Linked DNA regions of Homo sapiens. The protein of the gene in region 2 interacts with the protein of the main gene of each other region in a biochemical or structural test. Each region holds a gene or a part of one and is shown on either strand. Other genes may lie near its edges.

Evidence for each region.
Region 1: the proteins of LBP (region 2) and CD14 form a complex in vitro, tested with the Homo sapiens proteins (one study listed by BioGRID).

Annotation. Positions count from the first base shown.
Region 1 is NC_000005.10:140,630,599-140,637,493, forward strand, and holds CD14 (monocyte differentiation antigen CD14 precursor), read right to left. Parts: upstream 2,578-6,895; 5' UTR 2,474-2,577; coding exon 2,471-2,473; intron 2,383-2,470; coding exon 1,258-2,382; 3' UTR 1,134-1,257; downstream 1-1,133. UniProt on the Homo sapiens protein: Coreceptor for bacterial lipopolysaccharide. In concert with LBP, binds to monomeric lipopolysaccharide and delivers it to the LY96/TLR4 complex, thereby mediating the innate immune response to bacterial lipopolysaccharide (LPS).
Region 2 is NC_000020.11:38,340,858-38,349,481, reverse strand, and holds the start of LBP (lipopolysaccharide-binding protein precursor), read right to left. Parts: upstream 3,001-8,624; 5' UTR 2,966-3,000; coding exon 2,842-2,965; intron 1-2,841. UniProt on the Homo sapiens protein: Plays a role in the innate immune response. Binds to the lipid A moiety of bacterial lipopolysaccharides (LPS), a glycolipid present in the outer membrane of all Gram-negative bacteria.

The DNA.
Region 1 (6,895 bases), on a different chromosome or scaffold from region 2:
ATCAGAGCTATTCAAGGGAAGAAAAAAACTGCCTTGAGATGATTAATTCTCTGATACTAGAAATCTCTCAACTGGCTGGTTGAAGGCCCCTTGGGGACATTCCAGTGAGTGTCCAGCTAATTTAACTGTTTTCTGACATATTTTGAGTCTGGTTCTGGTAATGTCTGTAACTCTCTTATCAATGTTAATTTCCATTCCCTATTCCTATCTGTGTGGCTCTGGACATTGGCCAGAGGCAGGTGCTGGGCCTATATGCCTCCTCCCACCTTTCTCCCATGCTCCCTGTGAGGCAGGCATCTAGCTCTCTGATGGATGTGGCTGCCTCCTCATTGAAATGAAGAAGGGGCTCAGAAGAAACAGCACCTCTTGATGGCTGATGCTGTAGGTCTCTGAGCTAATGTGGACTAGAGGACAAATCCTGTTTATTCTGAAGTTTTGAAGAGTCTGAGATGCTTTCCTATTTGCCAATCAGTCAGCCTGAAAAGGTTATCTGCATATGTGTTCTAACAGAACACAGGATCTCTAATTCAGAGACCGACTGTATCTTGCGTCAGTTCCCTAGGCCCAAATTTCCCATTATGTCGGGGAGTGACACAGTGAAAGCCTCCGGGTGAAGAGAGGTTTTACAAGAGAGGAACCCTAATATTATGAAACTCAGAGCTTGTGCAGGATAGGAGGCTGTCCCTCTTCCTTGAGTGGTAAGGGAGACAGACAGAGAGGGAGAGGGAGGGTGTGTGAGTGTGTGTGTGTGTGAGAGAGAGAAAGAATAAGGAAATAAGCAAATGGCTGTGGGTTTTATTACCTTTGAAAGGGAGCAGCTGGCTCTTGGGAAGTGCATAGGAGAGGAAATATTTTGTATCTTCCAAATATCATGCAAATACCTTTTAATCCAGATGCCAATAATCTGCTCAGAAAGCCCTGACTGCACACTCATTGTTTCTCCCATGCAGCCCTAGCCAGGAGTCCTTTCCTGGCTCCTTCTATCCCCGCAGTTCTTTTCTTGAGGAGGACAGATAGGGTTTCTTAGGGAGTTAGGATGAAGAAAGCCTAAGTATGATGAATTCCCCATCCAGCACTGTGCCCAGCACATAGCAGACATCCAATAAAGGTCTGTTAAATGAATGACACGGACCCGTTGTTTAAGATTTTAATAAAGGTGGGGCAAAGGGTTGAATTGGTCGAAAAGTCCTCAACGTCCTGACGGGACTCCCCTGAAGCCAAGGCAGTTTGAGTCCATTCATTATTCTGTCTTGGATCTTAGGCAAAGCCCCGGGCCCCTTGGAGCAGCACCAGGGTTCCCGACACCCCCACCGACAGGGTCGAACGTGCACAGGCTGGGACCACGCCGGAGTTCATTGAGCCCTCGTGGGGGAGGGCAGTTCCAGGGACCAGGAAGGGATTCCCGTCCAGTGTCAGGTTATCCACCTCGGGCAGCTCGTCAGGCTGCGGCGCCCTGTTCAGTCTGTTGCAGCTGAGATCGAGCACTCTGAGCTTGGCTGGCAGTCCTTTAGGCACCTGTTCCAGCCCAGCGAACGACAGATTGAGGGAGTTCAGGGCGCTGGACCACATGCATCTCGGAGCGCTAGGGTTTACGGTGGCGCGCAGCGAGTTGTGGCTGAGGTCTAGGCTGTGGGGCTGCACACCTGCCGCCGCCAGTGCGGCGCACACGCCTGTGGGCGTCTCCATTCCTGTGTTGCGCAGCGCTAGATTCTGGATGGCCGGGAACTTGTGGGGACAGAGAGCCGCCATCAGTCCGCGTTCGCCCAGTCCAGGATTGTCAGACAGGTCTAGGCTGGTAAGGGCCGGGAAGGCGCGAACCTGTTCGCAGGAAAAGGCAGGCGAGTGTGCTTGGGCAATGCTCAGTACCTTGAGGCCTGGCTTGAGCCACTGCTGCAGCTCGGCGAGCCAAGAACGCCCTGTCGCCCACGACACGTTGCGTAGGCGCAAGCTGGAAAGTGCAAGTCCTGTGGCTTCCAGAGGCAGCGGAGGCATGGTGCCGGTTATCTTTAGGTCCTCGAGCGTCAGTTCCTTGAGGCGGGAGTACGCTAGCACACGCAGGGCGCCTACCAGTAGCTGAGCAGGAACCTGTGCGGCTCCCACTGTGAGCCGCCGCACGCGGAGAGCCTTGACCGTGTCAGCATACTGCCGCGGGTCGGCGTCCGCATCGACGCGCTTTAGAAACGGCTCTAGGTTGAGACCGCCGGCATGGATCTCCACCTCTACTGCAGACACACACTGGAAGGCTTCGGACCAGTCGGGCTGAGGTTCGGAGAAGTTGCAGACGCAGCGGAAATCTTCATCGTCCAGCTCACAAGGTTCTGGCGTGGTCGCAGAGACGTGCACCAGCGGCAGCAGCAGCAGCAACAAGCAGGACGCGCGCTCCTGGGGAGAGAGCAGAGGTCTAGGAGGCCCCATCCAACCCCTGTGGCTCCCGAGTGGCACGCGTTCGACCCCAAGACCCTACACTCACCATGGTCGATAAGTCTTCCGAACCTCTGAGCTCCGGACAGGCTCTGGAAGTGCTTTAGCTTCTTTCCTACACAGCGGCACCCGCCGGCTTCCAGGCTTCACACTTGTGAACTCTTCGGCTGCCTCTGACAGTTTATGTAATCCTGGGATGTCATTCAGTTCCCTCCTCTGTGAACCCTGATCACCTCCCCACCTCTCTTCCTCCGAGCCAGCCCCCTTCCTTTCCTGGAAATATTGCAATGAAGGATGTTTCAGGGAGGGGGACCGTAACAGGAAGGATTCTGCAGGGCATCTAGGGTTCTGTGTCTCCTGGCAGTGTCCTGATGACTCAGGCGCCCCAGGCGGTGAATGCCCTGTTGACTCGGGAGCCTAAGCCTTCTCTGGTGGGTGTGGGAAAAGGATGATCCTCAGTGCCTTAGGCCAGTACCATACTCTGCACTATCCAACCCCCCAATCCCCCTACCTTATATCCCAGAGAATCTACTTGATTCATTTCTTTGACTTCTTCCTTGTCTTGGTTTATGTTGATCTCCTGCCACCAAATCCAAGTCCCTGAATATCCTCAGATATTTAACTGCATGTTTTGTGGAAGAGATTGTGAACCTCATCTGTTGGCACCAAGGGGGGTAGAATTAGGTTCAAGAAAAGGAAGTTGGTCTAAAGAAAAATTCCCCCTTCCTTTTTTTTTCCTTGCTCCTTTGATTAAGTAATAACTTTCTTTCTTTTTTTTTTTTTTTTTTGAGATAGAGTCTTGCTCTGTTGCTCAGGCTGGAGTAGAGTGCCATGATCTCGGCTCACTGCAACCTCCGCCTCCTGGGTTCAAGCAATTCTCTGCCTCAGCCTCCCGAGTAGCTGGGATTACAAGTGCCCACCACCACACCCAGCTAATTTTTGTATTTTTTAGTAGAGACAGGTTTTCATCATCTTGGCCAGGCTGGTCTTGAACTCCTGACCTTGTGATCCACCCGCCTCGGCCTCCCAAAGTGCTGGGATTACAGGCGTGAGCCACTGTGCCTGGCAGTACTAACTTTCTTAAAAGTGGATGTATTTAACAGAGACACATTGGCCAAGTCTCTGGGTCACTTACACTATCCATTTTCTGTCCTGAAATTGTGAAGCAAGGTATTTTGAATCAGTTTTCCCACTTGCACGTTGCTCTCTCCTGCCCTCCCCTCAGTACAATCTCTGTGCCCTAGGAAGGAAGGGATGGGACTATGTTGAATGAGGATTAATTAGTAACTCACCAGTTTCGCAAAAAACAGACAAAAACAGAAAACAAAACAAAATGAAAAAAACAGCAAACAAAACAAAACAAAAAAACAACAAATGTCCCAGAGAATAAGGAGCTACGCATTTACAACAGCCCTCACAGGTCCACATCCCTAGACCTCTGGGGAAAGAACTATATGAAAGTCTTTTTTTTTTTTTTTTTTTTTGAGACTGAGTTTGGCTCTGTTGCCCAGGCTGGAGTGCAGTGGCGTGATCTTGGCTCACTGCAACCTCCGCCTCCCAAGTTCAAGCAATTCTCTTGCCTCAGATTCCTGAGTAGCTGGGATTACAGGAGCCCACCACCATGCCCGGCTAATTTTTGTAGTTTTAGTAGAGACAGAGTTTCACTATGTTGACCAGGCACTCCTGACCTCAGGTGATCCGCCCGCCTTGGCCTCTCAAAGTGCTGGGATTACAGGCGAGAGCCACCACACCCGGCCTGAAAGTCTTTTTTACTTTTATTTATTTATTTGAGACGGAGTTTTGTTCTTGTTGCCCAGGCTGGGCGCGATCTCAGCTCACTGCAATCTCCGCCTCCCAGGTTCCAGCAATTCTCCTGCCTCAGCTTCCCGAGCGGCTGGGATTACAGGCATGTGCCACTACACCCGGCTAATTTTGTATTTTTAGTAGAGATGGGGTTTCTCCATGTTGGTCAGGCTGGTCTCGAACTCCCGACCTCAGGTGATTCACCTGCCTCGGCCTCCCAAAGTGCTGGGATTACAGGCATGAGCCACCGTGCCCGGCAGAAAGTCTTTTTTAAATTCCCACTTCCTCTTTAATTGAGAAAGAAGTAGCTGCAGATTTGTCCCCAATCCAAACAAGAAGGCTCATCACTGCCCCCTGCGGGTCCTGTTGGGCATACCCCAATGCACTGGGCCATGCCCTGGTGCCATGCCAGGCCTCTGTGATATCCCTGAGGACCAAGATATGATTATATCTGACTCAAAGTCAGATAGCCAGTCTTGGAATCCCAGCTTTACGACTGAGGTTATGAGACTTGGGCCTCCCTTCTGTAAAATGGAGATGATAGTATTACCTGTTTGTGAGTAAAGTCTTTGGCACAGAAACACATCTTTTTAGTGTGGTCTTGATGACTAGTCTTCTTTCTCAGAGTCTCTGCTTTCAGAGAACTCAGGCCACTGAAGTCTGACACCTCATCATCTTAGGGGAGGCACTCTGGGTGGGGAGTTCCAAGTTAAGAGGGGCAGTGATGGTTCTGCAAAGATCTCCAACTCACAGCTTGATTCAACAAATGTCTATCATTTGTCTACCGAGTACTAGGGTTGGTAGAAAGCCCTGGGACACAGACATGACAAAGACAAGTCCCTGAAGTGCTCCAGGAGGTGGGTAGAGCAAACATGAACCCAGAACTTCCGTCCATAGTGCAGAGGGCTCTTAAAAGAAGAGAAACCAAAGGCTTGTGTTGTTGGGGGAGAGGGGTGGAGGGGAGGAACATGGTCTGGAGAAAGGAACAGCCAGCCCTGTACAAGACAGGACATGGGGCTGGTTCTTACAGGGTTAACAGTGTTGCTAGACAGGTAGATACAGAAAGGCAATTTGGGCAGCTGTAGCTGTCTGAGCAGACACTGGGCAGAATATAGCTTTTGGCTGGGAACTTTTTTCATCTTCCCCACCTGGAGCACATGTGGGTTTTGTTGTTGTTGTTATTGTTGTTGTTTTAGATGGAGTTTCACTCTTGTTGCCCAGGCTGGAGTGCAATGATGCAATCTTGGCTCATCGCAACCTCCACCTCCTGGGTTCAAGCGAGTCTCCTGCCTCAGTCTCCTGAGTAGCTGGGATTACAAGCACGTGCCACCACACCTGGTTAATTTTGCATTTTTAGTAGAGACGGGGTTTCACCATGTTGGTCATGCTGGTCTCGAACTCCTGACCTCAGGTGATCCACCTGCCTCCATCTCCCAAAGTGCTGGGATTATAGGCATGAGCCACCTTGCTGGGCCAAGTGTGGGTCTTAGAAGCTAGCCTGGGTTAGGTGCAGTGGCTCATGCCAGTAATTCTAGCACTTTGGGAGGCCAAGCTGAAAGGATCATTTAAGGCTGAGTTCCAGGCTGTGATAAGCCATGATTGCACTACTGCACTGCAGCGTGGGCAACCGAGCAAGACCCTGGCTCAAAAAAAAAAATAAATAAATAAAATAAAAATAAAAAAGTTTTTCTTGGGGAAATAAGAAAATAAATTTTTTTTAATTAAAAAATTAAAAAAAGAAGCCAGACAGTTGCATGAGGAAGGGCTCAAGATCCAGGCCCTATCCCTGGCCAGAGCATGGTGCACAGCAGGTACTCAGTAAATGGCTCTCCAGGGGCTGGATGGATACTGGGAGAGAAGATATGGAGGATGGAATGATGGCCTGTAGATATTTTAACATGCTGTTTTGTGGAAGAGATTGCAGACTTCATTGATTAACTCCAAGGGGTAGAATTAAGTTCAAGGGAAAGAAATTGGTTTTAAGAATAACCTTTTTCCTAGATTTGTACTTAATTGAACCTTTGCCTAAGTTATATGGCTTTTTAAAAATTAGAGGTTTCCTGTAAAAATTCTTAGGTGCCACCGGGACCCTAATCTTCTGGAGCTGCCAAGGGGGTCTGGGAGGAGACAACATCAAATAATTACACTATAACTTAATGATAGCTGTGAAAAGGGTTGTGAAGAAGCTGGGTCATTGGTACAATGGTTCTGAGTAGGTGACACTGGACTTGACATGTTGAGAATGGTGTTGAGGGAAGGATGCTGGTAGAAAGAAAAGGGAAGGATGCAGGCAGAGAAAACAGCTTGTGCGAGAGCCTCCCCCAAGAGTGGGAGTAGGGTGGAGGAGAAAAAGAACAGGGCTTGTTGACAAAGAGAAGGTCCCAGAAGAGGTGAGTCCAGATTGGAGAGGTATGCAGGGGTTAGACCATGTAGGGCTAAGTCGGCCACAATTCCAATTTTGAATGTGAGGAACACGGTTTTTTATTCACTAGTGTTTCCTCAGTGCCTAGTAGACTAGTGGCACTCCACATTTGGTGAAAGATTTTATCCTAAAAATTATGGGAATTCAGTTTTATGCAGAGAAGTGAAATAATGATATCTTTCTCATTTTCATCACATATAAAATGAGAATAATGGTCATTGTGGTGAACATTCTGTAAAGCAAAAATAA
Region 2 (8,624 bases):
GGTGGCTCCCACCTGTCCTCAAGAGAGGGGCCAACATCCTTATTAGCATTAAGTACAATGACAGGATATGAGCCCCTCTGTGTGCCAGGTAGCATGAGGGACATTCAGAGGTGTCCCTGCATTTCTGTGGCATTGTTAGGTTCATGCCCATTTTACTGATGAGGAAATGGAATGCCTTTGCCAACAAATCCCCAAGGGCAAAAGTGCTGTGCGCTTGGACGGATAGTCCTCCTTCTTGTTCTCCATGACATCTGGCCTGTGTAGAAGAAACTGGAAGGATCTGGGGGCTAGAGAAAGAGGGCATCTTTCTAGCTGGGTGACTTTGACAAAGTCCCCAAACAACCTTCACTTTGTTCATCTGTCAAATAGCAATGACAACAATACATTTGCTGGGCGTGGTGGCTCACGCCTGTAATCCCAGCACTTTGGGAGGCCGAGGAGGGCAGATCACCTGAGGTCAGGAGTTCGAGACCAGCCTGGCCAATATGGTGAAACTTCATCTCTGCTAAAAAATACAAAAATTAGCCGGGCATGGTGGCAGGCACCTGTAGTCTCAGCTACTCAGGAGGCTGAGGCAGGAGAATCACTTGAACCCGGGAGGCAGAGATTGCAGTGAGCCGAGATCGCACTACCGCACTCTAGCCTGGGCGACAGAGTGAGACTCTGTCTCAAACAAAACAAAACAAAACAAAACTAAACTAAACTAAACTAAACTAAACTAAACTAAACTAAACTTTCCTCATTGGCATGCCATTGAAACTGCAAAGCAAGAAGGGGGCTGTGAGGATAACAAGCACTCCTAGCTTGGTGCCTGACACACAGCAGGCACTCAGTAAATGCCTGGAACAGCAAATAGGGTTTATATTATTAAAAATATGGAAAGGGGTCGGGCGCAGTGGCTCACGCCTGTAATCCCAGCACTTTGGGAGGCCGAGGCGGGTGGATCATCGAGACCATCCTGGCCAACATAGTGAAATCCTGTCTCTACTAAAAATACAAAAATTAGCTGGGCGTGGTAGCATGTGCCTGTAATCCCAGCTACTCGGGAGGCTGAGGCAGGAGAATCACTTGAACCAGGGAGTCGGAGGTTGCAGTGAGCTGAGATTGTGCCATTGCACTCCAGCCTGGCAACAGAGTGAGACTCCGTTTCAAAAAAAAAAAAAATATGGAAAGGACCAAAATGTCCAACCTCAGAGGACTGGTTACATAAACATGGTGTGTGTGCACAGTGCAAAGGAACAAAAGAGAAACTTCCCTGATTTACAGTTTCAATGCAAGTAGCAGTTACCAGGTCCCACTGTTCCGAGATCTGAGGGGCCCAGGTTTCTGTCCCCAAGGCAGACATGGGTACACAGATGACCAGCAGCCTCCCCTTTCACCTCTTTCCAATTTGCTCTTCTCCCTCTAGCAAACGCACATGTTGGGGTCCTTCCGCCTGGAACGCTACCCCTTGTCCCTGGGTAATTCCCACTGTCTTTTCCATTTTACTATATCCTGGAATCCTTCCCTGATTTCCCTCTGCCTGTCTCGAGCCAGTCTGGGCTCCCAACAACCCTATCTAAGGGAATGTTGTTATCTCATTTAATAGGTAAGGCAATTGAGGCTCTAGGGATGTGAGAAGACATGTGGTCAGTGCCTGTCCATATCCTTGAGTCTTTCCAGTGAGTGACAGTTGACTCCCAGCTGCCAATGTCTGCCTCCCTGAGCCTGTATGTCCCGAGGCTTTTTGTCCTGGAACTGCAGAAAGCAGGTACATGCAACAGGACAGAAGTGCTGGGGAGTTGACAAACCCCCGGCCCAGAAGCCCTCAATCAATCACTGTGGTGTATAAATATCCCAGTTCCCATGCCACCTGGATAGTCGGGAGGCTTTGTTTCAGTATTTAAAAAAAAATACTCCTACTTTTGCTCATTCTTTGTTTTATTTTTATTTATTTTTTTGAGACAGTCTCCCTCTGTTGCCCAGGCTGCAATGCAGCAGCATGATCTCGGCTCACTGCAACCTCTGCCTCCCGGGTTCAAGCGATTCTCCTGCCTCAGCCTCCCAAGTAGCTGGGATTACAGTTGGCTGCCACCAAGACTGGCTAATTTTTGTATTTTTAGGAGAGGCGAGGCTTCACCATGTTGGCCAGGCTTGCCTCGAACTCCTGGCCTGAAGCTATCCACCCACCTCGGCCTCCCAAAGTGCTGGGATTACAGGCGTGAGCCACTGTGCCTGGCCTGCCCATTCTTTAAAATTGAGGAATAATATACATAAAGTACCTAACGGGCACAAATTTTAAAGGTATTGCTAAATAATTTTTAATGTTTATACAGGAATGTGATCACCACCTGGATCAAGATATGGCAACTTCCAGCACCCCGGCAGACCTCCCTCATGCCCTTCAGGGTCTCTGCCTGCCTCTAGAGGTGACCACAATTCTGACTTCCAGTTCAGAGGCATGTGTTTCCAAACTTTACGCAGAATTTTCCCAGCTGAGTGGTTCCCATCATCAGAGGTGGTGGCTGGTTTAATTGCACACTCTCTCCTGGCTGCCCTCCCTTCCTCATCTCAGTACCGATTCCCTACAGTGTTTCCTGGAATCATTTCCCAAATCAACTACTTGCACGCAAAGCTGTGTTCTGTTGGCTGGTGGAGGACCTCACTACCACAAATAACATGCCCAGGGCACTCAGCTGGTGGGCAGTAAGGCCAGAATAGGAGCCAGAGCCACCTGACCCAGAAGGTGGCACTGCCCCAGGGAGAGGGTCCGGTCTGTGTCCCCACTCCCTGTCCCCACTGTACCCAGAGCAGCCTGGAGCGTGGGTTTGCCAAGTCCAGCCAGCAGATGTGGCTTCTTACCATACTGCAGTCCCTTGTCGGTGATCCTGGCGACCAAGCCGGGGTTGGCACCCAGAGCCTCTGGGGTGGACGTAAGCAGCAATGCCAGCAGTATGGACGGCAGGGCTCTGGCCAAGGCCCCCATCCTAGATTCCCAGTGCAGTGGGCCAGGACTGTCCCAGCTGTGGATTGGGCCCAGGTCCCTTAAGTAGCCAAGGCTCGATGGCTGGGGGCAGTTCCTGAGGCTGGATGGGTTCCTGGGAGCGGGAAGGGGAGGCACAGGGACTGGAACCTGCTTGCGACATCACTGAAGTCATAAGGTCATACTTAGAAGCCAGTTTTCACTGCCCAGATCAGTGGATGAGGAAGCCTGACTCCTATGATCATCCCTGTCCACCCTCCCCACAGAAAGACCCCATATTCATCACTGTTCATCTTGCCTCATCTCAGCCAGTCTCTTAAGAGCTCGGCTAGGAAGGCCTGGTTTAGCAGATGAGGAAACTGAGGTTCAAAAAAGCCACATAGCTCCCTTGAGATCTCACCCCCAGCAGAGGGCAGGGTTGAGAGTGAAGCTACATCTGGCACCAACCAAACTCTCTTTTTTAAAATATATTGGCTCGTTTATTTAAAAAATAAATGTTTCCCCCAATGGGAAAACAGTGTTTCTCAAACCTTGCTGGTGGTGAAATTTTCTGGAAGGCAATTGGCAAATGTTTAAACAGTTGCATGCCCTGTGACCCAGGAATTCAATTTCAGGGACTTGCCCTTAAATACATAATTGAGTCAGTGTGCCAGTAAATCACTGCTCCAAGATACCACTGCTATGCTGTGGGAAACAGGACAGGAGAAGTGAGACCCAACCTCATGTATCCACCAGAAGGGCATTGGTTAAATGAATTATGACATGCCCCTTAAAGTGAGGCTGCAGAAATAAAGGTATTTCTTGGCAAGGAAAGGGATGTCATGAGGCATCCGTTTCCGATGGCACCATAGAGTAAGGTTCTATTTTGGGGGGTTCAAAATAGGCTTCTATGTTCAACAATCTGGAAAATATTTAGCAAGGAGTCATGAGGCATTGTCTCTGGTTGTGGGGGTAGAATTATAAGTGTTAAAAAAGTTTTTGCTTGTTGATACGTACAATTTTTTTTTCTTTTTTCATTTTTTGAGACAAAGTCTACTCTGTTGCTCAAGCAGGAGTCCAGTGGCATGAACATCGCTCGCTGCAACCTCAACTTCCTGGGCTCAAGTGATCCTCCCACCACAGCCCCCTAAGTAGCTGGGACTACAGGTGTGAGCCACCATGTCCAGCTAATTTTTTGTATTTTAGTAGGGACGAGGTCTTGCTATGTTGCCCAGGCTGGTGTCGAACTCCTGAGCTCAAGTAAGCCTCCCGCTTGGCCTTCCAAAATACTGGGATTATAGACTTGGGCCACCATGCCCAGCCTCTAAAATTTTTATTTTCTTGGGGGTATGGTCCCGGGCATATATTCGCAGTAAGTAAAGATAGTAAAATTTCATTCTGGAAAACAAAATTTATAGTACAGACTGTGTTTAATTTTTAGAGTTTTGCCCCAGCCCTGCTTACATTTGTGAGTTCTGCTTTGCCCTCACCCCCAGGAAGCCTTCCCTGACCACTCCCATGCTTCTCTGGATTCTAGAAAGGGTCCCCTCTGAGGTCCCAGAACCCTTTGCGCTTTCCCCACCACAGCATTAACCACTCTGCTTTTTGATAATTGTGGTCCTTTAAAAATATGCCCACGAATTCTTTGATATTCCTTCCATCAAAAGGTAATGTTTCTGCCCCCTTCCCTTGAAATTGGGCAGGTTTTCATGATGGCCTCAACCAACTGAATGTGGTGGGATTAACAGGGTGACTCCCAATAGGTCACAAACAGCACTGGCAGGCACTGAGGTTAAGATCAGAATGTCCCACGTTAAGCACAGGGAACCCCACAGTCCAGGCCTCTCTGCTCCTCTGTACCGTGTTGCTCCTGTCACTGGGGCTGAGGTTTGTTGGGATCCTCATCCGTCCCTCCCCTCAGTCCCCACACCACCAGTCTGATGGCTCCTTGCAGGCACGGCTGAGTCTTCCATTTCCTGAGATCCTTGCAGCACCCAGCAGAAATTGGAAAGAAACTGATATTTATTGAGCACCTACTATGTGCAGGCGCTGTGCTGGTTAAGCTGCACGTCTCCTCTCATCCTTGCATCAGCAACCCCAGGTGGATATTTTAGTCTTGTCTTGAGATGAAGAAACTGAGGTTTGGCAGGGTGAAGTGATGTAGGCTGCAGTCACCCAGCAGGAATTTAAGTCCAGGTCTGCAGGATGCCATTCCAAAACTCTGGTCAGGGCAGGGTTCTCTTGGGAGGCAACAAGCTGAGCAGAGGCCTCAGGGTAAGGAGCCAGCCTTTGGGAGGCTTTGGAGCAGGAAAGGGCTCACAGGTGCATCCCCAGTGTGCCTAGGGGCCTTTGCTTCCTGGACCTCAGCCTGCCCAGGAGGGGAGGAGAGTGGGGGAGGACATTCTGGAGCATAAGGATCTTATGGGGACATAGATGTCACTCTTCCTCTGGCAGCAGTTTAAGGATGTCCCTGGCTGGGAGTCATTTGCAGGGGTGGGAATTTCCCACAGCAGCAATCTTTGGACCTTAGAGCTGCCACATGGCCCAGGCCTGGCCTCCACCCCTGCAGGTGCCCACTGCTGGCTAAGGTCCCTGCTGATGGCCCAGGACCCAGCAGAGGCCTCAGGGAGCAGCACGACCCCACTGCTGGTCAGAACCCCTGGGCCTTTCTCCTACCAGGCTGTCCATCCAATTCCACAAAAGCAACAGCTGCTACCACTCTGGCCACCACTCAGTCTTATTGCAGTGAAATAGGGACTCTTTTAACAAGGCTGTTTATTGTGTTCTTGTGCAGGAGAGGGCCCCCAGAAATGGCAGTGCATCAAATGATGGACAGGCGATCATAAAACTGTCCCTCTGACATGATAAGTGGCCACGAATGGCGCCAAGAGGGAGAGGAGTTCCCTAACAGATAGTTGACATCATCTGGAGCCAGCAAACCACAATTCCCTGGTAAGGTCGAGCAGAAGGGCAAATGTTGGAGTCTGACTTGTATATGACCTTTTTCTTGCGGCGACGGACCAGTAAGGGAAAATCACCCCAAGTGAGCATGCGCACAACCTTAGTAAACACACTGCGCATGCGGCCCCTCCCAAGTGCTGGCAGGCCATTGCGCATGCAGGGAGGGCGCAGCAGCCCACCGAAGGGAGGAATCAAGGAGGAGAAGAAACCCCAGAACCAAGCCAGTGTATAAAAGCCCCGAGCCAAAGGTTGAGCGGGGCACTTGATCTCTCAGTTGTACTTTGCTTCTTTCAATAAACCTTTGCCTCTGCTTTAAAACTTGCCTGCGTCTCTCAATTGAATTCTTTCCTCTGAGAAGACAAGGGCTGGGAGTGTTGCGGACTCGCCACCGATAATATTCTCACTACAAAAGTGTTACTGAAAAGATTTTGAAAAACCCAGAATTTGGAATCCATAGTGTCTAGAATACTGAGCAGCAAATAGTAGATAATTGCCAAAGGAATAAACAAACCTTATGTTTATCTTTATGGACTCTGGGGCCAGATGGCCTGGATTTGAATCCTGACTCCCCCACGGGGTGACTTTGGGCACTTTGTGACTCAGTTTCCTCATCTCTACTTGGGTTCAGCCAGAGGGTGGCATGGCAGGAGGTCAGATGTCAGGGCACTTTTCCCTGCTGTCTTCTCTAGATCACAAGTGTGGCAGTTGGCTGTGTCCCTCCTGATAAGGCCTTGTCCTTGGCTCCTATTATCTCCTTGGGCTGGGATACCCAGATGCTTTTCTTTGCTGCTTGAGCCTTAGGAAAAACAGTCCCTGGTTGGTTTCCTCAAGCTTGTCCCCCAACTCTAGAAATAGCCACTTTATTCAAATCCCAAGAACCAATGCAGTTGGATTCTCTTTTCTTGCCTGAACCCTGTTGGACACAATTAGCAACACTGAGCATTTCTTCTGCACTTATTCATCTTTTGTGCAAACGCCTGCCTCTCGCAGAGAGCTTTGAATCCTTTTCCAAAGTCTTACAGGTTTTTTGTCAAGGCCCTGCTCCTAATGGGCTGGGGGACCTGGAACAAACTCCACCCCTCTCTGTTCCTCATGTTTCCCCCAAATGCAGATGAGGGCTGGGGACTAGGACAGCTTTTCAGAAACAAAGACGTGCAGTCAAGTCCCCCAGGGATCTTGTTTAGATGCAAATCTTGATCCATCATGTTCCTCTTGGGGCTGAGCCTCTGCATTTTAACAAGCTCCCTGGTGAGGGTGATGCTGCTGACCACGGATTGTGCTTGGAGCTTCGGGAACAAGGGACTAAATGAGCTCCGAGTTCCCTCCAAGCTCAGCAGTTCTCTAATGCTTCACTCTCCTTTTCGATAGTTTTCTATGACGGTGCCCACACTCCTGAGAACACTGACTCTTGAAAGAGAATGATGTTATGAATTCCTGCAGTTCTGAATCTCTGCAGGGTACTTTGGAGTTGGGAGTTTAATATTTATGGCAGCCTCTCCCCAAGCCACATCACCTGCAGATCTGAATGTGTGCCTGTGTACGCACACGCACAGACACACACACATGAGCCCTGAGACATGCGGGCTTACAAAATAAAAGTAGTAACGTCAGTGACGATCCTTTGTGGCTTGAAGGTTGCGTGTCTTGAGATACCAGGAGCCCCCATGGAGCAGGGCTGGTCATGTGGATAAACAGCTCCTCACCCCAGAGAGCCCTTACTTTTACAGATGGGGAAACTGAGACCTAGAGAGGGAGAACTGGCCCAGGTTACACTGTGAGCCTATTGCTGAACTGGAGAGGATAAATCCAGAGTTCTGGCCAGCCAGGGGCTCTGATTCTTGGGGTCAGGCCCATTCAGGCAGACAGCCCTGGATCATACATTGAGAATCACTGGCATAAATGTTTTGAGTTATGCAGATGTGGGTTGAAATCCCAGATCATTTTTAAAATAAATACTTACTGATCACCAACTATGTGGCAGGCATTGGGAATACTACTGTAGCCAGATATAGTATTTTTTTTGTTTTTTTTTTTTTGAGACAGAGTCTCACTCCATCACCCAGGCTGGATGGAGTGCAGTGGTGTGATCTCAGCACACTGCAACCTCCGCCTTCTGGGTTCAAATGATACTCGTGCGTCAGCCTCCTGAGTAGCTGGGACTACAGGTGTGTGCCACCACGCCCGGCTAATTTTTGTGTTTTTAGTGGAGACTGGGTTTCGCCATGTTGCCCAGGCTGGTCTCGAACTCCTGGGCTCAAGTGATCCACCTGCCTCAGACTTCCAAAGTGCTGGGATTACAGGTCGTGAGCCACTGCACCTGGTCAGATATAGTCTTTACAGTATAGTAAGAAGAACTGCGTTTATTCAAATTAGAGCAAACTTGGATTACTGTTGTCAACCCCTGTACCACGGATTTGACATGTATTTGATTCTCATAACAACTTTATGAGGTAGGTACTATAATGATGTTCCCTTTATAGATGAGAAATAGAAAACCTGAGAATTAAGTATACTGCCCAAAGTCACACAGCTGGTAAATAGCAGACGTGGGATTTAAACCCAAGATATCTGGGATCATGGTTCATACTCTTAACCACTGTGCCATGACCCTATCAATCATACCTCTGATTCTTCCCAATAACCTCATGCCGAGAGGGCAAGATTTTAACTCTCCTTTTCAAAGGAGGAAATAGAGGGCCAGAGAGGTTAAGGAACATTTGCA